Homo sapiens: one gene and its partner. The protein of the gene in region 1 interacts with the protein of each later gene in a pairwise test. Each region holds a gene or a part of one and is shown on either strand. Other genes may lie near its edges.

What was found.
Region 2: the proteins of TIGAR (region 1) and HK2 interact in binary tests that used the Homo sapiens proteins (3 or more experiments, as listed by UniProt).

The regions. Positions count from the first base shown.
Region 1 is NC_000012.12:4,311,281-4,324,413, forward strand, and holds the start of TIGAR (fructose-2,6-bisphosphatase TIGAR), read left to right. Parts: upstream 1-9,932; 5' UTR 9,933-9,991; coding exon 9,992-10,023; intron 10,024-13,059; exon of another isoform or gene 13,060-13,133.
Region 2 is NC_000002.12:74,868,617-74,880,980, forward strand, and holds part of HK2 (hexokinase-2), read left to right. Parts: intron 1-3,683; coding exon 3,684-3,803; intron 3,804-4,659; coding exon 4,660-4,755; intron 4,756-5,227; coding exon 5,228-5,327; intron 5,328-5,649; coding exon 5,650-5,833; intron 5,834-8,549; coding exon 8,550-8,705; intron 8,706-10,071; coding exon 10,072-10,305; intron 10,306-11,648; coding exon 11,649-11,953; intron 11,954-12,364. UniProt on the Homo sapiens protein: Catalyzes the phosphorylation of hexose, such as D-glucose and D-fructose, to hexose 6-phosphate (D-glucose 6-phosphate and D-fructose 6-phosphate, respectively).

The DNA of each region.
Region 1 (13,133 bases):
TAGGGCCTAGCGGTCTTCTCTTTTCCTTAGCATTCTGTCAGGGCTCTGGCAAGAACAAGAGGATTGGCCTTTCTAGCCAATGTCCCCCCCAGTGCTTGCTACTTGCCTGGAATATTATGGACTGTATCATACATTTCTGTATTACATACAATCATTGTGACAGAGTCAGGATGCTGTGGTGGAAAAAGGCTTAGGTAATAAGATGATCTGACTTTGAATCCCAGGGCTGCCACTTAGCTTTACAAGCTCTGAGTCTCTGCTATTCTTTTATAAAATCTCTCTGGATTATTAGAAGGATTAAATGAGGTAGTCTATGTAAAGTGCCTAATACATAGAAAGCTTTAACAAGAATCAGCTAGTCTGAACATATGCAAACACACCAAGGACCGTGTTCATTGCTTTTGAAGGCATTGTAGATGCAATGTTATTTTCCCAAAAAGTCAGGGGTGGAGGTGGATATGGGTTTTCTGTGGATCCTGATGAGACTACTATCAAGAGCACAGCAGTGAAACAAAAGCATTTACAACTCTCATAATATCCCCTTGGTGCTGCCGCCCTTCTTCCAGACAGCAATGAACTTGGGCTTGGGGAGCGTTCTCTTCCCCACTAAGTAACAGGCTAACAGGCAAGGCATGAAAAGGGATTAGAGGATGCATGTATTCAAATAAAGGGGAGTTCCCCAGAAGCACGGCAGGCTGAGAAGGCATCTTTCGACTGTCCATCAGTAGGAAAGCTGTTTGACTGGCAGATATAATTTTTTTGGAACCAGCAATAATGGGGAGCTATTGGTGACAGATGTCAGATGTTGGCAGAGCAGCTGCCAAAACAAGTCTCCCTCCACCTTCAGACATCAAGCTGATGGGGACTGGGAGTCCCTTCGCACTTGGGTCATTGGTCACATTATTATTTCTCAGTCGCTGGACAAAGCAGATGGTTTACCATGTATTTGTGATTTTCTGTTGGCCTAGAAATTCTGTTCTTCCATCAGGGTACAGCATGTAATCAATTATGACAGTGGGTGGTGCAAGAAAATCCCTGCCAGTAAAAGCCCAAGACTTTCTCTTTTATTAAGTCTGCATAAACCACTACAATTTCCAACTTCAAAGCAATAGAAGAAAAAAGCAAAGTAGTGGTGTTATAAATAACTTGGGTAATCACAAAAACCACAGTTCTCAGTTGGTCCCAAACACTCTCAGTCTGTACTATCTGATGTCAGTTTTGTCTGTCCATTTTTATTCTGAAACTTAAAATCCTCTTGTCTCTATTCTAGTAAGTCTTAATAATATACGTATATTTTTAGACAGAGTCTTGCTCTGTCACCCAGTCTGGAGTGCAGTGGCACGATCTTGGCTCACTGTAACCTCCACCTTCCAGGTTCAAACAATTCTCCTGCCTCGGCCTCCGAAGTAGCTGGGACTATCATGCACAGCTAATTTTGTATTTTTAGTAGAGACAGGGGTTCGCCATGTTGGCCAGGTTGGTCTTAAACTCCTGACCTCAAGTGATCTGCCCGCCTTGGCCTCCCAAAGTGTGCCGGGATTACAGGCATGAGCCACTGCACCCTGCCTCTATTCTGGTAAGTCTTAAAGAGCTTTATCTTAGAATCATAAAGTGACCTAATTAAAAATAAACAGAACAAATACCAGGAACATACTACCCCTCAACTAAGGTTTTTTTTAAAAAAAAAATTCTCAGCTGTATTCTATTACATAGTAAAAATAGTAAGTTGCCTTGCTTTAGTATGTGTGAGTAGCCACATAGAACAGTTTATATGTTCTCCATCACCCACCCTCTGGATAATTTTCTTTGTGAAAGACACCTTGCTTATTTGTATGCATGTGTCTCAGGAAATAAATTCTTTAGTAATAGAGCAGAACAAGCATTTTTAACATGATAACTACCAACTAGAGAAACTCTTGACATAAATTACACATTTTTTCTTGTCTTTTAAAAATATGTATGTATTTTTTCTTAAAAATCAGGCTCATAAACGAATGGCTTTCTACTCTTTTTTCATGTAATCTCCTATCAGGGGAATGTTATCATACCATTAAATATTCTGTAAGAACATGATTTCTAGGGCTGGATACGGTGGCTCACATCTGTAATCCCAGCATTTTGGGAGGCCCAGGCAGGAGGATCACCTTAGGTCAGGAGTTTGAGACCAGCCTGGCCAACATGGTGAAACCCGATCTCTACTAAAAATACAAAAATCAGCTGGGCGTGGTGGCACATGCCTGTAATCCCAGCTATGTGGGAGCTGAGGCAGGAGAGTTGCTTGAACCCTGGAGGCGGAGGTTGCAGTAAGCTGAGATGGCGCCACTGCACCCCAGCCTGGGTGACAGAGAAGACTCCGTCTCAAAAAAAAAAAAAAAAAAAAAAAAGAAACAAACCAAAAAAAAAAAAAGAAAAAAAACCATAGATTCTAATGAATTGTTTGGGCTCCTACAATATATCTAGTACTACTTGAGGTGCTGAAGACACAGAAGGGAACAAGCCAGTCCCCACGGTCAAGGAATATATATCCTGCTGAAGAAAGACAAGCAATGAACCTACAAAAATGTTCATAAATGATATAATTTCAGAATAAAATCGGATGATGGATAGTGACTGGGCAGCCTACTTTGCTTGAGGGAAGACCTCTTGAGAGTGGGACTTCTGAGTTGATACCTGAAGGCTGAGAAGGAGGCAGCCATGCAAATATCTTGGGAAAGAGCTCTGTGAGCAGAAGGAACAGAGAATGCAAAGATCCGGAGGTAGGAATGAGCATGACGTGGTCTACGAACAGAGAGAAGCCCTGACGGCTGGAGCTGGATGAGGAGGGGCAGCGAAGAGAGAATTGTAACTGGAGGGCCAAGAGGGGCCATGCCACATAGGCCTTGCAGGAGTTGGGACTTCATTCTAACTGCAATGAGAATTCAATAGAGAATTCTCCAGCAAGGGAGTGACACAATAGGGACATCTCTTCAATGGCTGAGTACCAGAGTAGAGGCAGCAGAGCTATGCCAACAGGCTATCACAGTAATCCAGACGAGAGGTGATGAAGGCTCAGCCTGGGACACAGTGAGACTCCAGAAGTGGTGGATTCAGGACATAATTTGGTGATAGACCCCATAAACTTTTTTTAAAGGTTTTGGATAGATAGCTTTTATCATTTATTTATTATTGAAGATATGTACGACACAATAAATAAGCTTGCTTCAGACGTATATATAGAACTCTGTATCCAATAATGAGTGAATCCACATTCTTCACAAGGACACACGAAACATTTCTGTGAAATGCCTGTGGACTAGTCCACAAAGCAAGTCTCTGTAAATTTCAAAAATGTATACCCTTGAAAATCTCTGAAGTCCTGGAGATTTAAGTCTGCAACTATCTTAGTCTTACTACCAAGAATAGCCCCTAAGGAAAAAAAAAAACCCTTTCAATAAAAAAAAGATAAACAAGAATAATATAAATTTCACAGACTCCAGCTAACCAGCTTTTGGTCACAATGTAATTAATTTCACTCTTAATGCATTGCTGAAAATATTTAAATGCCTGGGGAACTGGCTCCAACCCACAATCTCCTCCCCTACCCTACATTCCAAATAGATCAGGCATTTTACACTTGGCTCATCTTCGGTGAAGACAGTAATTAATCTTTATTTGAAAACAAGATTTGGGAGGCAGACGCAGGCAGATCACCTGAGGTCAGGCGTTTGAGACCAGCCTGGCCAACATGGTGAAACCCCATTTCTACTAAAAATATAGAAAAATTAGCTGGGCGTGGTGGCGGGTACCTGTAATCCCAGCTACTCAGGAGCCTGGGGCAGAAGAATCGCTTGAACCTGGGAGGTGGAGGTTTCAGTGAGCTGAGATCACGCCACTGCACTCCAGCCTGGGTGACGGAGCAAGACTCTGTCTTAAAAAAAAAAAAAAAAAAAAAAAAAAAAAGCAAGAAAACGAGTAAAATCCAGCACTCACTGCATTATTGAGCCTACAGAAATCTATGATGAATTTGACAGGGAATATTAGGATAGGTAAAGAATCAAGGGTTTCATGAGCAGTCAAGTGGAGGGTGTTACCATTTACTGAGATGAGAAAGACTTGAAGACCAGCTGTTTTTAGGGGTAAAAATGGAAGGTTCTGTGTGGACAAAGTTAGCCTGAGATGTCAACTATAGACCCAAGCGTAGATGTTGAGTAGGCAACTATAACAGATAAACGAATGAGGAGCTCAAGGGAAAGGCCAGGCTGGGGATATAACTAAGATCTATACACTGGATTAGATCATCTAGCTGACTGCACAGTTGAGTAGAGAAGAGAGCCAAGGGCAGAATCCTCAATACTCCAACATGCACAGGGTTTATGGGATTGTCTACCCCCCAACAATTCATGTGTACCTCACGTTTCCCATCACCTCTGCAATTTGGTAGGGCCACGTGAGTGGCTCTGGACAATGAATGAAGGAAGCATCTAAGGACTGGTTCAAGACCCTCAACTATTCTCATCTCCTGCCTCAAAAATCGTGAATTCTTATGTTTCTGAAGTTAACATGTCTGTCAACCCTAGGTCCTGAATGAGTATGTGGCTTTAAGACCCTTTCTGATCCACGTCAGACATATAGCATGAAAGAAAAACAAACACTTGTGTGTGAAGCCATGGAAATTCCAGAGTTAATTTGTTACCTCGGCATAACGTGGCCTAATCCAGAATGCCATCATATGATGCGCTTCAACAAAGCACCATTTTTCATTTTTTTAAAAAGGCGTTATGTGATTTGAGAGGCTGTCAACAAAATATATTGGTGGATGGCTGGGTGTGGTCGTTCATGCCTGTAATCCCAGCACTTTGGGAGGCCGAGGCAAGCAGATCACTTGAGGTTAGGAGTTCGAGAACAGCCTTACCAACATGGTGAAACCCTATCTCTACTAAAAATACAAAAATTAGCCAGACATGGTGGTGCAGGCCTGTAGTCCCAGTTACTCGGGAGGCTGAGGCAGGGGAATTGCTATTCAGGAGGCTGAGGTAGGGGAATTGCTTGAACCCGGGAGGCGGGAGGCGGGAGGCAGGAGGATCACTTTAGCCTGGGAGGCAGAGGTTGTAGTGAGCTGAGAGCACACCACTGCACTCCAGCCTGGGGCAATGGGAGTGAAACCCTGTCTCAAAAAAAAAAAACAAACATATATACACATATTTTTTATATATGTATTTATATACGTATACACACACATACACACAAATACATGTATATACATATATACATATATGTACACACATCCTGCTTATAAAATGAACAAGGAGTTCACGTAAACTAATTCAGATAGAACCTGGAAATATATATATAGGGGTATTTCTGGCTTCTCTCTGAATATATATGGATACACACACACACACACACACACATATATACACATACATACATATATGGGTGTTTCTAGCTTCTATCTGAAATACAGTTTAAGTGAACTCCCTGTTCATTTTATAAGTGGAAGGGCAATCCCTGAACCACTGAGTGAATAATGCAGGACAATGTCCACTATTTTGAAGACACCTCATTTTTCAACCTGGTTTTTGCCCCTGATTAGTTTTTCGTTGCTGTTTTTTTTTTTGTTTTTTTGTTTTGTAGCCGTGGTCTCGCTCTGTCGCCAGGCTGAAGTGCAGTGGCACGATCTCGGCTCACTGCAACCTCTGCCTCCCGGGTTCAAGCGATTCTTCTGCCTCAGCCTCCTGAGTAGCTGGGACTACAGGTGCACACCACCACTCCCAGCTAATTTTTGTATTTTTGGTAGAGACGGGGTTTGCCCATATTGGCCAGGATGGTCTTGATCTCTTGACCTAGTGATCTGCCTGCCTTAGCCTCCCAAAGTGCTGGGATTACAGGCATGAGCCACCGCGCCTGGCCCCTGATTCTTAAAATTTATGAAGAATTGTTTTTTAATTTATTCCTTAGATAATTAAAAGAAATAACATTGGTGGATGCCTTGCAACTTTCTAAATTTCTCCTAAAACAATAATCCTCTCCAATATGTCAGCTTTTTTAAATATGTATGCTTCATTAGACAAACTGATCATAACAGGTATTCTTCATTCATTTGACAGATTTTAATGGAATCTCCACTGTGTTCCAAACATTTTCTTAGGAACCAAGGAAGTAATGAAATAGAGCCAGTAGTTACCCTCATGATTTATAGTTTTGAAACCTGGAGTATACTTATCTGGTCTCAAACTCAGTTCTGAGATCTTGAGAGATGGGAAATTAGTTTTTGTTTGTTTGTTTGTTTTTGGAGATGAAGTCTCACTCTGTCGCCCAGGCTGGAGTGCAGTGGCATGATCTTGGCTCTGCAACCTCTGCCTCCCGGGTTCAAGCAATTCCCCTGCCTCAGCCTCCCGAATAGCTGGGATTACAGGCACCTACCACCACGCCCGGCTACTTTTTGTGTTTTAGTGGAGGAGGGGTTTCACCATGTTGGCCAGGCTGGTCTCCAACTCCTGAGCTCAAGTGATCCGCCCGCCTCGGCCTCCCAAAGTGCTGGGATTACAGGCGTGAGCCACTGTGCCTGGCCCAAGAAATGGGAAATTAGTTAACCTGTATGTGCCTTAATTCTTCATCTGTGAAATGGAAATAACTCCTACCTTGCAGAGTTACTGTGTGTATTAAATAAGACAAAATGGGAAGCTGTTTTTATTTAGGCGTTAGAAATGCACTTGGACCACCTTAAAGTGAAAGAGGTTTTACTATACAAACCGGAACTTTCAAGGTATCTGGGACTATGGCAGTTTGAGCGACCAGTGACTGGGTACTCCTTGCATTACTCACTTGTGTCTGTGTCTCTCTGTGTGTCTCTTTGCTTCTTCCATTGACTTTGCTTCTTCGTACCCTCTCCTCTGTTCTCTCACTTGTATTATTTATGGCTTCTGTTTCTTCACAGCTTCAATCACCATGCCCCTTCATAGCCCTAACTCTATCCTATGATTTCTTTCTGTGCTTTCTTTCTGCTTCACCCCTCACAGATAACTACTTAATTTCATTTTTTCAGCTCAAACTTCCAGGAGAATCTGCTGGGATGATTCATTCATTTGGGCATTCAGAACACGGACACGGACACACACACACACACACACACACACACACACACACACACACACACACACACACGATATCTGGGCCCCACTGTTAGGGCCCTCTGAATTATCCCTCCACTCTCATCCTGAAAATGCCTCCTGTTGACCTGCAAGCTGTTAGAGATGCTGAATTTGGTCCCCACTCCAATCTACTAACTCCAGAATCTACATTTTAACACTATGCCCAACTGCTTTGTGTGCACGTTCGAGTTTGTGAAGCATTGCTTTAAACTGCTAGCTCTCAGAACAGCCACTTGTATGTTGGAAACAGCTGGGGATTAAAAGCATACAGATACTGCTGCCTGAGTCTTTCCCCCAGAAGTTCAGATTTGATTTTTCTGGGGTGTAGCCTGGCAAAGGTCTCCAGACGATTCTAATGTAAAGATAGGTTTGAGGACCTCTAAACTAGTTCTGTGTCACCGCTGACCAGTTGTGTGAGCCTAGACAAATCGCTGTCTCTCTCTCGGCCATATTTCTTTTTTTTTTTTTTTGAGATGGGGTCTTGCTCTGTCACCCAGGCTGGAGTGCAGTGTTGGAATCTCGGCTCACTGCAACCTCTGCCTCCCGGGTTCAAACGATTCTCCTGCCTCAGCCTCCCTAGTAGCTGCGACTACAGGCACGTGCCACCATGCCCGGCTAATTTTTTGTATTTTTAGTAGAGATGGGGTTTCACCGTGTTAGCCAAAATGGTCTCTATCTCCTGACCTGCAGATTCTCCTGACCTGCCTTGGCCTCCCAAAGTGCTGGGATTACAGGCGTGAGCCACCATGCCCGGCCATATTTCTCATCTCTAAAGTGAAGATAATGTAGCCTATCCTGTCTACCTTAGAATTGTTCAGAAGGCCAAATGTGATATTACATGTAAGACTGTTTTGAAATGTGTGCCTATGAATCTAAGTATCTCATTCATCTCTTCTCTAAACACATCTTTTCATATATAAGTGGGGATTCAAGGAAATAAATGCATTATGAAATACAAGAATTTAGGTAACAGTGCATGGAAGACAATGTCACCTAGCTAACATTATTGTTACTTGTGTCACATTGCTAGGTACTGCTATCCCAGTTTACCTGTCACAAAACCCAGGGTTAGAGAAGCTCATGTTATAAATAAACTTTCAGTGCCACAAAAGAAATAGCACTCGAATATAAAATTTTCTTTTTAATTCTCAGCAAGGCAAGGTACTTCTATAGAAGGGTGCGTCCTTACAGATGGAGCAATGGTGAGCGCACACTTGGACAAGGGAGGGGAAGGGGTTCTTATCCCTGACGCACGTGGCCCCTGCTGCTGTGTAGTGCCCCACCGCACAGGCTAAACTAATTCCGATTGGCTAATCTAAAGAGAGTGATGGGGGTGAGTGGTTTGGCGGGAAAAACAGTTATGACAGAGCAGGTAATCTGAGTCAGGGTGGCGTAGGTAATGGGAAGGAGTCAGGGTGGAGTAGGTAATGGGAAGGAGTCAGGGTGGAGTAGGTAATGGGAAGGAGTCAGAGTGCAGCAGGTAATCGAAAAAGGTTGTGGCCGGGCGCGGTGGCTCACGCCTGTAATCCCACCACTTTGGGAGGTCGAGGCGGGCGGATCACGAGGTCAGGAGATCGAGACCATCCTGGCTAACACGGTGAAACCCTGTCTCTACTAAAAATACAAAAAATTAGCCGGGCGTGGTGGCAGGCGCCTGTAGTCCCAGCTACTCGGGAGGCTGAGCCAGAATGGCGTGAACCCGGGAGGCGGAGCTTGCAGTGAGCCGAGATCACACCACTGCACTCCAGCCTGGGTGACAGAGCCAGACTCCATCTCAAAAAAATAAATAAATAAATAAAAAAGAGAAGGTTGCTTTAGGAGGAAGTTAAGTTTAAAAGTAAAAAGCAAAGAATTGAACATACTGACATATTGATTCTTTGAAAAGAAATTTAGAACTCATATCTAACATGAAGCAACTCCCTCAACGTTCTGAAGGCTATTAAAGAGAAATTATTCATCTGAGGCTTGTTAAAAACGGCAAGACTTTACTCAAGACTACTGCAATAGGTGAGAGAGACTGAATTCGACTCTAGAATACAACCGGGACCAGTGGAGATTTATAGCCAGGGGGCGGGATGGAAGGGATGAAAGAGAAGATGGGAAATTACCAGAACGTGGTAAGCTATCTGGGGGAGGGGGAGGAGGAACTTTACTAGATATCAAGGGCCTTAGAAGAGAGCATCAACAGTGAGGTCTCTCTTGATAAACAGGCTTAGCAGGATTCTTTGGTAAAACCAGGCTCAGCAGGCCGAGGATGCCGTCTAGTATAGAAAAGGCCTCAAAGGAGCCCGACTAAAGTTTGGTCACGGAGGGCGTCTGTCCCGGCGGAGTTGGGGTGGGTGGGTCTAAGTCTACAGACCTGGCCGACGCTACGTCCCTAAGGTTAGGGACTAACAGACCTCATAGAACACAGTCTGTTGGTCGCTGTACACCCGTGAGGGGTTCATCACAGTGGCCAGCTATAAGACGAACGGTTGCATTCCAGCCTCAATCGCAACAACCACAAATCAGTGCGCCGGCTTCCTTATCTGCCCCGAACGCAGGCTGCCGGCTATCGAGGGAAGGAATCCTACCGCGGACTCCGCGGGCGGGGCCTCCCGCACCTGCCGCGCGCCAATCACAGGCCGGCGCGCAGGGGCGCAAGCGCCGCAGCCCTGGGCGGGGCCCCCGTGGCTCCCTCGTCTCCCCCGCCCCGTCGGCCTCGCCCGGCCCTGAGTGGCCTTCGGGGATGACGTGCGAGGCCGCCTCGGCCTATGGCGGCGGAGCCGGCCGGCTGCTTGGCGGAAGTGGTGTGGGGGAGGTAGCCCGCAGTGCAGGGGCAGCGCGGCGCGGGGCCACCGACGGGACGCGGCTCCGGGAACATGGCTCGCTTCGCTCTGACTGTTGTCCGGCAGTGAGTATGGCTGTGGCAGGATGTCTTTCTCTCTCTCTTCCTTGAGTGTGTTGGAGCGGGTGAAGGGAAAACGGGTCCACCACCCTCTCCCCTCCCTGCTCGCTCCAGCCCGGGAGGGCTGGCTTGGAAGCGCTTTTTCCGGGGCGCTTGCCCTGGGGCCGTCCCGTGTCGCCCCTCCTCTCACCCCAGCAGCCCCGAGGGACGACGGCAGGTCTTAGATAGCTTCGTTCCGTGTTTCAGATAAAGTGAGGCCCGGAGGAGCAAGGGATCGGGGTTCGTAGGCACTTGGTGGCTGCACCAAAAACGGTGCCAGACATGTCCACAGACTTGTCTGGGTACCGATTTTGCTCCCCAGCAGATTGCAAAGAGTTTGCAGAATTGCTCGTCCATGGCTGATGTTTTTGATGCCGGCTGCCTTCCGCTATCCTCTCAGTTTCTGAGGTTCCCCCTCGTTTCCCCAGGCAGTCAGCCCCCCAGGCACATATATGAGACTTCTTTCTTTTCCCCAGAGGTTACAGTTCTGGGAGAGAAAAGAGGATCACAGCTCTGATCTCAGCAGACCGTATCATCCCAAATAAATGTTTTTATTATCATAACGTTACACGGAGCTGCATGCTGATAGGTCTTTATGTATTTGCCAAGTGTTAACGGGAGGTGAAAATCAGGGTAGTTAAGAGCACAGATTTTTATTTTTATTTTTTTTTTTTTGTGAGATGGAGCCTCGCTCTGTCACCCAGGCTGGAGTGCAGTGGCGCTATCTCTGCTCACTGCAACCTCCCGCCTCCGGGGTTCAAGCGATTCTCCTGCTTCAGCCTCCCGAGTAGCTGGGATTACAGGCATGCGCCACCACGCCCGGCTAATTTTTGTATTTTTAGTAGAGACAGGGTTTCGCCATGTTGGTCAGGCAGGTCTGGAACTCCTGACCTTAAGTGATCCGACTACCTCGGCCTCGCAAAGTGTTGGGATTACAGGCATGAGCCACCGCGCCCTGCTAAGAGCACAGATTTTTCAGGCAAGGTAGACCTCGGTTGGAGTCTGTTCTCCAGCTAAGAGCCAGGTAGCCTGGACTTAAGTTTCCTGATATGCAAATGATAGTGCGTATCTCACTACTTTAATGCGAGAATTAAATGGGGGACAGGTAAAGTGTATGATGCAACAGGGAAAGAAATATATCTGAGAAATAACTTCTATAAAGAAAGCTCCAATAAAAGTGCAGTTGATTCCCAAATACGAACGTATAGTTCAGCACACCAGCATTTTGAGTAGGTAATGTGTGCCAGTAGACTGGATCATACAGATAAATAACATACCATTTCTGCATTCATGGAGCTCACAAAGGACATTAATATGATTTAACTTTGTCAATTGACTTTAACAGCTATCTTTTCTGGCCTGTCCTTCCTTTATAAGAAAGATAATCTTAAGAATCCTCTAAAATTGTCTGTTTAGGATTAGCAGGATTTTAATGGCTACCTTAGAAATCTAGTTCCTCACTATCTCTTCTCCCACCCCTCTCGGTTGTATAGAATGCCTTGGGAGAATTCTTAACTTACTAAAGGTCACACAGCTAATCGGTAGCAGAACAGGAACTAGAGGCCTGATCACCCTTTCTTCCAATGTTAGTGCACTTTCTAGACGCCTGACCCAGCCAGCCCAGTGTCATATTTATAATTGAAACTCAGACCATCAAGGTGGTTCACCCCTGTAATCCTAGCACGTTGGGGGGCGGAAGTGGGTGGATCCCTTGAGCACAGGAGTTCAAGACCAGCCTGGGCAACATGGTGAAACCTCCTCTCTACAAAAAAAAAAAAAAAAAGCTGGCTGTGGTGGTGCATGCCTGTGAACCTAGCTAATAGGGAGGCTGAGGCAGGAAGATCACTTGGATCATGTGAGCCTGGGAAGTGAGGGCTGTAGTGAGCTGTGATTGGGCCACTGCACCCCAGCCTAAGCGACACAGTGGGACCCTGTCTCAAAAAGAAAAAAAAGAAAACTCAGAAGTTGTAGAATATTTGGGGTAAGGCAACCCCTAAAAAGTAAGATGATTCCTATTTAGATTCCTAATAGACAATAGTCATATAAATATGGATTTTATTCCCTTTCTGCTGCTTAAAAAGGGTTTGATTCCGGAGGCCCTCATAGGAATCATTTAAAAAATAAGTCTTAATAAATGATTATTTGCCAGGCACTGTTGTAATTAAAATCTGACAGTTTAGTGAGTTAAGGACTGATATCCTCATTTTTCACATGAGGCAGCTGAGACAGAGACGCCTTGTAACTTGCTTAAAGTCACATGGCAAGTTGAGGAAGTAGGAGTTTAACCAAAGCAACTTTACCACTCACCGTCTTTTGTTTCCTACTTAATTTGTTAAAACCCGGTATTTGTAGATTACTTGAACATCACCAGCCATTTTTGAGGCTACTTTTTAGTCTCTTAATATAATTGTGTGGAGTTATGACAATAGTTTATTTTGTTCTGTTTTATGTGTAGGAAGATGGAGTGAGAGGGCTGGTTCAATGCTTTCCGGTCTGGATCCTCCTGCTTCTTGCCTTCAGAGTTCTCAAAACCAAAACCTGGTGATTCTTTCAGGAAAAGAAGTGATTTTTAAATTTGACTCATTATCACCATAGTTAAATGTAATGACTTTTTGAAGAGTTAGATAATTTTATTGGACTTACCTCTTCAGATAATGCAAAAAAATCTTTAAAGCAATTTAAGTTCAACAGAACCTGTTAGGAATCTTGTGCTGTTCCTGTATGTGGTTTATCTTTCTTCATACTTTGAAATGAAAGTACCAGTGTGTATCATTTCTGGAACAGACTGCCCAAGATTCCAGAATTCAAGTCTATCATCATTGTCAGACTATAACTTCTCATGAGCTTATGGCACAGCATTGTTGAAAACTCCAACACGTGTAGGTTGGCATTACCATCACCTATCCAGCACTACTGAAGGGTCTGGTTCCTTGGAATGTTGTAGGTGTTTGCAGTGAGTCCCCGGCAAAACCATCCATTTAACTTCCTTTTTTTTTTTTTTTTTGGAAATATGTGTGCCTTTATTAGCTGAGCCACTACTTGAGGGGGATGAAGCGGGAGGAGTGGGTGGCCCCGAT
Region 2 (12,364 bases), on another chromosome or scaffold:
TCACTTTCTGTGGCTAGTAATTGCATTGTTCCCTGTTGTGGGGGATGTGGTTGCCTTTTCTTCCCGTTGCCTCGATCTCCTGCCTTGGGCCACATCCCCCAGATGATAAATGTTTAAGAACCAAGTAAACTAGATAAGACAAAACAAAACAAACAAAATAACATCTAAAGTTTGGCTGTGATTATGTAAAAGACTTGTAACGTGATGGTGACTTGTTAGGTGGATTTTTAAGTTTTACAAGAACAACACCCTCCCTGTTGCTTGTATCCTGACAACATGCAGGGGCCAGGCACCTTGCAGTCCCTGCAGCGTCATCCCTAGAGCCTGGCAAGGACAATGAAGTGCGTCTCTGCCAATTGAGAAAAAAAATCCATTTTAAACATTCAAGATGTGAGTGAAGTTCTTCTTGAAAAAAGCTTAAAATTGCTCAGACCACCTAGTTAGAGGGTATCAAGAAAACCTACTCTCCATGCAATATATAAGAAAAACAGTATAGTCCGGATTAAAAAAAAAAACAACTATGAGACCCACCTTGAAGAGCATTAAAACTGTTGAGATATTAGAAAGATTTTAAGTAAGTGAAAAATGCTATTTAAAAATGAAAAGGAAAGAAAGCTAGAAGAAAATATAGGTATCTTTGATCCTAAGGAATAGGAAGACTGCTGTGTACCTAAAAGCAGCAGAAAACACTTGGAAAAAAGGCTGAAAGGAAGTTCATTGTGGCTATTTTAGTGGTGGAATTACTGGTGCTATTTTTCCCATATTTTCCCCCTTTTTTGGTACTTGGTATCAGTATTTTACTTAAAGGAAAACAAATGGATTGTAAATATACACTTTGGTTAAGAACAAATCTTGGAATCCCAAACTTGCAAAGGTTTTTGAAGAATTGTGAACCTGGGCAATGGGGGTCCTTCGGTAAAGTCTGTCTTCCGGCACATTAACTTCTCCTGAAGAGCAGTGGATTGCAAACCTGAATGGCAGCCACTTTAAGATTTTAAACGTATATCTCGTGGAAAGGGAAGTGAGCAGATTTTCAGACCAGTAAGGAAAAGGAAACCATTTTAACTTCATAAAATGATGCCCTTTGAGCCTTTTTATGACAGGAACGTGTTAGCTCTTTCTCTGCATCTTACCCATAGATCCTCCTCAAAGAGAACGAGATTGTCTTCCAATTCAAGGAAGCAGAAGGTCTCCTCTTCCCACTTGAGAAAAGATGTAGGTTCTTTGAACCCAGCCCTAGCCAGTGGAACTTCTTGCAGCAATGGAACTGTCTCCTATCTTCCCTGTGCAATATGATAGGCACTGACCCTGTGGCATCGAGCCCTTGAAGTGTGGCTGGTGTGACGGAGGAACTGAATTTTTAAGGTCTTTTTTCTTTTCTTTTCTTTTTTTTTTTTTTTTTTGAGACAGTCTCACTCTGTCACCCAAGCGTGACACCCAAGAGTGCGGTGGCACCATCCCGGCTCTCTGCAATTTCTGCCCCCCAGGTTCAAGCGATTCTCCTTCCTCAGCCTCCCGAGTAGCTGGGACTACAGGTGTGCACCACCAGGCCCGGCTAATTTTTTGAATTTTTAGTAGAGACAGCTAATTTTTTGAATCACCATGTTGGCTTTGAGCTTCTGACCTCAAGTGATCTGCCCGTCTTCGCCTCCCGAAGTGCTGGGATTACAGGCAGGAGCCACTGCGCCGGCCTGTTTTAAAAATTCTAATTAATTGACATAGCCACAGATGGCCAGTGGCTACTATATTGGGCAGGGCAGTATTTAATGCTTCTTCACGGTCTATTTTTCTCTACCTTCCTATGTTAGGAGCGCAACTGGAAAGAAAGCAGTGATCAGAGCTGGGGGAGGAGAAACCATTTTGCTTTTCCCCCTTCTAACCCCCACCTCCAGTCTTTGATGATTGGCCTTATCTCTTTGCACAACTTCTGCATCTCCCTTTTTTTTTTTTTTTTTTTTTGGGATAAAAACTATTTGTACTAAAGATCATTTTGACTAGAGTGCCAGGAAGAAGGTGCTGGGAATTTGTTTAATATACGTATCATATAATTCATCTCTAGTCACCTTCCCGACAGAACAGAATTTGCTGAATATATCCCTATTTTCATGTTAAAATACTTGAACTCTGTTCAAGGGAGTTGGCTCACCTGCACTGGTGATCCCCATGGCAAGAGAGCCTTGTCCTCCCCAGCCTTTGCTCTTGAAAATGTTTTGGTTTGGAGGTCGAAGGTTCAGCCTCAGCTGTTGTTAACTTTGCATGGGATCAGACAGAGGGACAGACAGAATGGATGTGGGAAGTTTAGTTAGATCTGGCCATCTTCCAGATTGGGGTGGCCTTGTCTTCCTGGGTCCCTCCTGCTGACCATACCCTAGGCATCAGGAGATCCAACAGGTCTGTCAGTTTCCCTCTCCCAACCTCTCAGTTCCTTTATAAATGTAAGAACTTTCTGTGGTTTGGCATAGTGGTTCTCAACCTACTGCTCCAGGATCACCTGGAGGGCGGAAGGCTTGCTAACAGATGGCTGGGCCCCACCCCCAGAGTTTCTGCTATAGTCGGTCTGTGGGGGCGGGCCTAGACCCTAGAATGTACATTTCTAACATGTTCCCAGGTTAAGGGAGTGAGGTTGCTGTTCCAGGAGCACACTTTGAAAAGCCATGGTTTAGTCGAATCTTCTTGCACCTTCCTGGATAGGAAAAGGATAGTTGACCTCTTATCCACCTTGGCTTTTAGATTTTGCCACGTAGTCAACCTGGCCCTTGGAATCTGCCCAGCCTCTTTGGCCTCTGCTTACTTTTTACACCTGAATGCCTCTAGTCTCAGCCTTCACCTAAAGGGTCAGCAGCTTCTCTTTGAGCGTGTAGGGTGGGGCAAGAAGGACGCCAGGGGATTGTGGGCTTTGGGGCTGATTGAAAGCCTGGCTTATTATGAATACAGCTTTTTTAAGGCTTAGGAGCTCTGGGTCCTGCACAGTGAGTGCGTGCGGTCACGGTTGTGAGGCTGCTCACCCACAAAATGTGATTTATTTCTCAGCGCTCTTCATGGACTTACTGGATGTTCTGTTTAGAAAGTTAGAAAACAAAGATAACTTCTTTGAATTGCCCTCAGGAGATTAGTTTTCTAGAATGGAGAAAAAAATATAAAAATTACTTGTTTTTGTTAAGTTGGTTCATAGAATGCCAACAGAGAATGCTGTCCCTGCAAACCACCCCCCACCCCATCACCAGAGACAGGGATACTAAAATACTTCTTGGCAGCAAGATGGGCTGGCCTTTGGTATGATCGTCAACTGGGCTTCCATGTCAATGGGTTTCTGACAGGGCCACCAAAGAATGTTCTGTTCCCCGGGCATGAAGTGACTTTCTGATTAATGTTGGCCATGATTTCCCCTACCTCACAGGGTTATCTTGACAGCAGTTTAGAAAAATGGCTTAAGTAGAGGACAATATTTAGTGGGCAAAAACTAATGTTAAGCCTTTATGTATTGACTCATGTACTCCTTTTCATAACTCCATGAGGACAGGTCCAGTTATAATTCCCTTTTTGTAGGTGAGCAAATGAAGATATCAGAGGAGATATGGGTTTTGCACACATTCAGCTAGTTACGTGCTGAGCCTGAAGTGCATGCCCTTAATCTCTATGCTGTTCGACCTCTCTGCTCACCACCCTGTGTCATGTATCCTTAGCTGTTTGACCACATTGCCGAATGCCTGGCTAACTTCATGGATAAGCTACAAATCAAAGACAAGAAGCTCCCACTGGGTTTTACCTTCTCGTTCCCCTGCCACCAGACTAAACTAGACGAGGTAAGATGGGCTCCTCAGACACTTGTTGCTTCACTCTTGGGGCTGGGAGGGCTGAGAGGGACTTCTGAGCCACCTGCTGTGGTGGTGGTGGTAGCACTGGAGGATTGTGGAGATGAAGTTCTGCCTTTCTGGGTGACTGTGTATGTCGATGGGGGGGCTGGTGAAGAAATCTGGGGGGTTGGGAGTGCCCTTTATCACCCTCTCTCCCACACACATTGCACAGTATCCTTATCCCCTCCACAGAAACAGGAATGAGAAATCAGGAACTCCCCAGTCTAAAGTGTTATGATAAAGACCCTTGGAAGAAAGATACTTGGAGAGTTAATGATGTAAGGACACAAGTACAGTCATGTATTGCATAACAATGGGGATATGTTCTGAGAAATGCTTTATTAGGTGATTTCACTTATGTATAAACATCATAGAGTGCACTTACACAAACCTAGATGGTATAGACTACTACACACCTAGGCTGTATGGGACAGCCTGTTAACTCCTAGGCCACAAATCTGTATAGCATGTTACTGTACTGAATGCTATAGGCAATTGTAACACAGTGATATCTGTGTATCTAACTAGGCAATAGGAACTTTTCAGCTCTATTATAATCTTGTTACCACCGCAGTATACACAATCTGTCACTGACTGAAACATTGTTATGCGGCACATGACTGTGTCTTATAGTGCCAGTTGTCCTGAGTTTCTTTTTCCTAGGCTAGCCAGGAAGTAACACACAAATTCAATCATGACTTTACCCCAGTGGCAGAGGTCTCTGCTAATGACGGAGGTTTGAGGGGTGTGGTGTGAGTTTCAGTTTTAGTGGGAAATCAATATTCACTTCTTGGTCCCTTTCCAGAGTTTCCTGGTCTCATGGACCAAGGGATTCAAGTCCAGTGGAGTGGAAGGCAGAGACGTTGTGGCTCTGATCCGGAAGGCCATCCAGAGGAGAGGGGTGAGTGGGGTGGCAGGAGCTTGGGGTCTGTGGGCTTTTCTGGGTCCACCCTGAAGACTCCCTGAGTGTCCTTGACTCATCATTGTTTGCTTACGTGGAGCTTAAGGAGAGTTCTCTTTTCCCTGACACATGTACTCAATAATTTTGTATGCGATCTGCTGCTTTGGGGGTTTTTAGATTATCAAATGGATAAATAATCTTAGCCTTGGCACAAGAAAAGCTCTTTAGTTCTTAACCTGAAGAAGACTTGAATGTGATTTCCAAGTAAGAAAGTTGGAATGATGTTGACATGGGAGTGGAATGGCTCAGAGAGAGAATGAATTAAAAGTCTTATCACAGGAGGAGTTATGGGGAGGGAGGGGGGAGAGAGAGAGAAGGAGGAGGAGGAGGAGGAGGAGTGATATATAGCTGGTGTTAGGAAAGTCGCCCTCTGTGATGATGAAGGTCAGAGCCCTCCCATTTGTCTCCACAGGACTTTGATATCGACATTGTGGCTGTGGTGAATGACACAGTTGGGACCATGATGACCTGTGGTTATGATGACCACAACTGTGAGATTGGTCTCATTGTGGGTGAGTGAACACCGTGCATGAAGGGCCCGTGCTGGCCAAGGGATGGGGGTGTGGGCTGGAAAGGGAGAAGGGGCCCATGGGCTGGGTGTTCCTTTGTAGTTCATATTAGAAGATAATGGTCCAGTCACTTTGGAGAGCCGAGCAGGGACTCATGGAGTTGGGGGTGGCAGAAGATTAGACCATGTATTGTGATGCCCCCAGAGTCTGCAGTGAGAAATCCCAGCCATCCTGGCCGGGCAGTCTCGGGACAGTAGTATAAGAGGGAAGAGGGGTGGGAAGGGGCCGGAGCAGGCGTGTGCATAGCCGTCCCTTGTTTTGGCAGGCACGGGCAGCAACGCCTGCTACATGGAAGAGATGCGCCACATCGACATGGTGGAAGGCGATGAGGGGCGGATGTGTATCAATATGGAGTGGGGGGCCTTCGGGGACGATGGCTCGCTCAACGACATTCGCACTGAGTTTGACCAGGAGATTGACATGGGCTCACTGAACCCGGGAAAGCAACTGTGAGTAGGCCCTTCCTGTGCGAGTGGGCTTGGCGGGGGCCTGGAGCTGAGTCTGGGGCTGGTCGGGGCCAGGGGGTTGTTTCTTTACAGTCTTACATCCCCAAAGCTTGCCAAGGTGGCCACTGGTCATAGGAATGTCTGTGACTATAAATTGCTGAGAGGATCTAAAACAGAGAGCAAGCGGATATACCAGATTATAGCTAATAATGTGTTTCCTTCACAGGAGTCATTTTGGAAGGTTCTATTCTGAGTGTAAGTGGGTGGCCCTGCTCTTTCTTTCCACCTTCTATTTGTAAATTGTCCATGGGAACTGTGAGCCACCTAAGGAAAGTTGTGTTGAGGTGGCCAAGATTGGGGTCTCTGAAAGCTCCTTTCATAGCTCCAACTCCATCACCACCCAGAGGACAGGCTGACAGCTGGCTGCTCATTGCTGCTCCCTGGGGTCCCAGGGCCTCCTGCTGCAGCTGCAGGCAGACCCATGGCCCCTGGAGACATTGGCTGAGGAGCTTCCTTGGCCTCCTTCACTTGGACCTTGGCCCAACTATGTCCTGGGATGGATTGGAGGAGGGGCGTCTAGCATTTTGGATCCTGAATATTGTATTCTCCAGCCTGGCCTGCCTTTGTTTTTAGTTGCTTTTATCTCTTACAAAACCTTATTTCACCCTCACAAACATTTGCCAAATGTGCGTGTGAAAGATCTTGAAACAGGGATTGCTTCAAGGTCTGAAGCAGTTGCAAAATATTTTGAGCAATACAGATCATCTCTGGTCTTGTGACTGTTGTAGAAAAGCTTTTCGTGCAGATCTCTACTTGGACAGGAAAATTGAACCCTATAAATCAAGTCAGTGGTGGGTAACCCAGGAGAGTCCTTGCTTTCGTTTTTTTTTTTTTTTTTTTGAGACAGAGTCTCTCTCTGTTGCCCAGGCTGGTGTGCAATGGCGCAATCTTGGCTCACCGCAATCTCTGCCTCCCGGGTTCAAGCGATTCTCCTACCTCAGCTTCCTGAGTAGCTGGGATTACAGGCGCCTGCCACCACGCCCAGCTAATTTTTGTATTTTTATTAGAGACAGGGTTTCACCATGCTGGCCAGACTGGTCTCGAACTCCCGACCTCAGGCGGTCCGCCCTCCTCGGCCTCCCAAAGTGCTGGGATTACAGGCGTGAGCCACCGCGCCCGGCCTGAGAGTCCTTGCTTTGTCAAAGCATGGTTTATTTATCTAAGTCACAAGCTTGTTTCACATGTTGAAATGAGTCCTTTACTTGAAATTTCTGAGGATCATACTGGTTGTGTCTGCCATGGCTGATGAGAGGTTTATGAGCTGAAAAGTCACTCAGTGCCTGCCTCCATGAATGAGGCACACCCAAGTCATTCCGAGGAACTAAAGGCCCTTTCAAATGTCAAAAGACAAATTTGCCAGCCAGACCATGACAGCACACCCCCGGCTTATCCTTTGACACCCACCAAATTGTCATCCATGGTAGCCCTGAAGTCACTACAGACAATTTTTGTCCCCTCTAATATATTTCCAAGTAAGTATCTTCCAAATGTTGACTGGAACAAAGTGTTTTTAAAAACTAGAATAAAAACTTAGCAACACGGAGTTCCTTACTGTTGAAGCCAGGCTCCCATCCACGCTGGTTTCCTTCTCCTGAAGCTCTGCCTGTGTGGGTGCACTAACATTTAAAATGCGCGCTGTCATCTTCACAATTTTGCCAGCTCTCAGTTAGCCCTGATGCTGCTGTACTCGGCCTTGGGTCTTGAGCAGGCTGCTTCCTGGAGGCCTGGGTTTCCTCTCGGAAAGGTAACCTTGGAATCCCTTCCACATCTCAGTCCTGGGCCTCCTCCTCGCTGGGGCTCATCCTAGTTAGTGGCAGCAGGCCCATGTGCCTCCTCTAAGACACAGGTTCTTTCTCAAACACCCAGAAATGGGCCTTTTGTCAAAAAGAATTATCACCAGGGCTTGGTTTCCTCTCAGTTCTAGTCAGAAAGACCAATTATGAAAGAAAACAGTGCCACCTAGTGTTAAAATTAAATCACCGGACCGCACTGCTGGTTTGGGGGCCGTCCCCTGCCTTTCTAAAACATCTTGTCACCTGCCTGCTTAGAAGCCTGTTTCACTCCCAGACCCCTGAGACCTGTCATTTAGAGCTCGGAGCCCAGTGCAGATTCCTCTATCCCAACCTGCCTTTATAATGTTGCCCCATCATCCCCTGCCCCAGGTGGTTTTCACACCATTTTCTCTGGAGCCCATGAACGGCTTGCAGGGGTGGACAGTATGAGCTGATGAGTTTCTAGGCCTGTGCTACATATCTAATCAGATCGCCTTTTTTCTCTTGTAAATAAATATTGGGCTATGTAAGATATTAATTTTAAAAATGATTTCCTGGCTAGAGAAGAATTTTAAAGATTACCACCCTACGCATAACTTTACCTAAAATACAGGCTGTTCCAGAATGTTCCATACTCCCTGTGTGTTTCATTTGGCTGCTTAAGTTTCATTTATTCTTCTCCATAGGTCAAGGCCCATCAGCCTGCAGGGACAACCCAAGCCAGCCCCTCTGAGCCGTCACCTCTCCACGTATCTTACTCCTGGGCCGTGCTGCACACATTAACCCTTAGTTGTGAAGTTGCACGTGTGCGCATCTTGCTTCAACAGGGAAGCTATGAGTACATGGGCAGTGGGGACTTTATGTTTTTGGTTTGTGTCTTCCGGCAGGTTTGAGAAGATGATCAGTGGGATGTACATGGGGGAGCTGGTGAGGCTTATCCTGGTGAAGATGGCCAAGGAGGAGCTGCTCTTTGGGGGGAAGCTCAGCCCAGAGCTTCTCAACACCGGTCGCTTTGAGACCAAAGACATCTCAGACATTGAAGGGTGAGCTTCTGGCCAGCCCCCTCTATTTGCTGGATCACCACACGAGTTGACGGGTAGTTGGGGAATGAGGAGGGGGCTGTACCTTTTGACTCTTCAAGTATAGACTGCAAGAGGGTCTCACATGACGTGGACCATGGCGGGCCTGTGGCTTCACTTCACTTACCAGTCTCCACTCTTGTCGATTTCGATTGTGATTGCTACCAGTGACTCATGGTACTGGGAACGGTGGTTGGCCTCCATATGCAGGGACTTGGGCTGTTGCACTGGGTTTAAAGCTGGAGGACCCCAGAGGGCCCCCGAAAGACTTAGCTGCATCTGCCTCCTTTTCCTTCTCCTGAAGCTCTGACATCTGATTCCCTATTGGCAATTCTCAAAAAGGACTCTGTCATGACCCCTGCTTCATAATAGAAAGCTAGGTCTTTGAATTGGCCAGAGATATAGCTACCCAATTAATTCTAATAAGCAGAGCTGGGGCCTGCATTTTCACAGCCCAGCAGGGGCAAGAGTGAGGATGGCTTGATTTTTGTTGTTGTTAACAATATCCCAAGAGTCAGGCGGGCCTCGTTTACTGTTCTTGAGATTTCCACTTGTAGATTGAAGAAGTCCTGGTGTTTCAGGGACCAGATGGTGGAGAGGAGGTGTCTTTGGAGCCAAATGGAGCAGTGGAACAGTGCCAATGACTTTGTTTTAAGGGGAAACTCTTGAAGGAATGGGGCCTACTTGTTGCTATACCCCAAGGTGATGCAAGTACCCCAAGGTGATGCAAGATTTAGTTCCCTTGAGAAGGGTGCTAAGGTTATAGCACTAGCCCCTTACCAACCATCTTTAGACACAAGCTAAAGCAGTGCCAAGTCCATGGTGAAATGCAATAGACTCCTACTGCTTTAGAGAGAGAAACCAGGTGGGCATCACCGCAGGGTTCACATGTTGAGAGTGGCTGACAGCAGAGACACTGTCTGTCTCCCCTAACACAAGCAGATGTAACACAAACTCTCACACACACAACTTGGTGGTAAAGCACCAAGAACAGGGCCTTGTTTTTACATAGCACATGCATAAGAAATACTTGTGTTTCTCAACTCCGTGTGTCTCTGTGTGTGTGTGTGTGTGTGTGTGTGCGCACGCACATGCGTGTGCGTGTGTGTGTGGTGTCTGGGAGAGGAGCCTCAGGGTGGCTGTGCTATATTTTGCACCCCCTTCCTCCTCCTCCTGCCCCTGCACAGGTGGACTAAGCAATGAAGAGGGATTCTGTCCCCACTGGGTGGTGAATTTGCTGGAACTAAAGGGCTTCCTTGCCACCCCCCGACACACACACTGGCCACAGTGGGTCAGACACAGGCCCACATGCTATCTTTCTGTTTCCCAGGGAGAAGGATGGCATCCGGAAGGCCCGTGAGGTCCTGATGCGGTTGGGCCTGGACCCGACTCAGGAGGACTGCGTGGCCACTCACCGGATCTGCCAGATCGTGTCCACACGCTCCGCCAGCCTGTGCGCAGCCACCCTGGCCGCCGTGCTGCAGCGCATCAAGGAGAACAAAGGCGAGGAGCGGCTGCGCTCTACTATTGGGGTCGACGGTTCCGTCTACAAGAAACACCCCCAGTGAGTCAGTGTGCAGGGCCTGGAGATGCGGAGTTCCTGGAGTACCTGGGGCTGAGTGACTCCTCATGCCAGCTCCATTTTGCATTTCAGGGGTGGTGTGGAGGGACCATAGAGCTGAGGGTCTTGGTGGAATGAAAGTTCCCACCTGGGCAAGGGGGAATGGGAGGAAGTCATATCTGGTGTGGGTGGAGGTGATTTCTGAAGGCTACTGATGACTCGGGCTCTCCGCAGAGCTCCTCTGGCTGCTGGACACTCTCTTTGCCACCCTCTTGTATGCGTTATTGTTCCTGTCTTTACTCTTAGAATTCTTGGTGATTCCTGCAGGTGCTATGTCCTCTGCCAGGGACCACCCCAGCCCAGTGAGGGTTACCAGCTTCTCTGGCTGACCTTGGTATTAAATTGATCCTGCCCTGTCCACATTTTGATCCCTCAGGTCATAGGTACCAGAATATTCACATGTCAGCTGAGACCTGGAAGATGTCTCTTTATTGTGCCTACTTATTTCCCCATCATTTTCACCTAATAAGAATGCCAGGTCAATGTGCCTTTGTTTTCTTAACTTGTCGGTGCAGGAGGCCTCAGCCCTGAGATTCCCTCTTCCTACCCAGTGTTGCAAAAACTCGAGTGTGCACGTGAATCACATGGGGATCTTGCTAAGAGGCAGATTCTGATCAGAAGGTCTGGGGTGAGTCTGAGATCCCGCATCTCTAACAGCCCCCAGTAGGCTGCAGCCTACTCCTGCACTTGGAGTAGGAAGGCCCTGGAGACCATGGCTCCAAGTGGCCACTACCCAGAGAGTTCCTGGCTGAACACGTTGTCTTTAGCTGTGCAGACACCTTTGGGATCATTGGCAGAAACTGGCAAAAGAGAGGCTAAAGTCCAGAAGAGCATCTCTAGCTTTTAATTTTGGGTCTTTCCCAGACAGCAGCTAGTGAAATGAGTGATAGAACAAGACAGATAGGTGGCATCAGAACCACCTAATACCACAGGGCTGCTCCAGCAAAGAGGCTGATGGTACCATGTTGGGCAAGGGAGCAGTGGCCAGGGGGCCTTCTTCAGTGAGGAAGAGGAGGTCTTGTGTGGCTGCATGTAGGGGACAGTGGCTTATTAAAAGGTCTTTTCCTTTCATTGGCGGGGGTGAACCAATCCTGGGTGGTCATAGTTGATATGGTTCTTGTAGTGGTTCCTAACTTGGGACAGTGGAGAGAGGATGTTTAGGGCAGCACCCACTCCTGCAGGTGCCTTTTGGCATTTGGATTAAGGCGGTGGGCAACTGTCTAACTATTTGCACCATTGACCCTAACCATGGACACCTGTCTCTTACCCGCCCTGGGGAACTGCAGTTTTGCCAAGCGTCTACATAAGACCGTGCGGCGGCTGGTGCCCGGCTGCGATGTCCGCTTCCTCCGCTCCGAGGATGGCAGTGGCAAAGGTGCAGCCATGGTGACAGCAGTGGCTTACCGGCTGGCCGATCAACACCGTGCCCGCCAGAAGACATTAGAGCATCTGCAGCTGAGCCATGACCAGCTGCTGGAGGTCAAGAGGAGGATGAAGGTAGAAATGGAGCGAGGTCTGAGCAAGGAGACTCATGCCAGTGCCCCCGTCAAGATGCTGCCCACCTACGTGTGTGCTACCCCGGACGGCACAGGTACACGGCAGGGTTGCCACCTGGCTCACATGGTGGGCCTTTGTCCTGGTGTTGATACCCTGGGAGGGATCCCTTAGCATTAGCATTGGACATTTGAACCAGAACACGTTTCTTCAGCCGTATTACTAGGGAGTTCTAGTCTTTGATAAACTCAAACAAGGTGCTCCTCTGCAAACAGTAGTAATGGTCAACACTTATTGAATGCTTACTGTGTGTCAAAGCACTTTATGTGTATGAGCTCATTTAATCTTTGTTAACTGTTAAAAAATATTAGCAGTTAATTTTATGTATTCACCTATGTTTGACAGAAAACTGAGGCGCAGAGAAGTTAAGACACCTGCCTAAATTCACACAACTAGAAAATGTCGGAGCTGGGATTCAAACCCAGGAATTCAGGTTCTAGAATCTGCT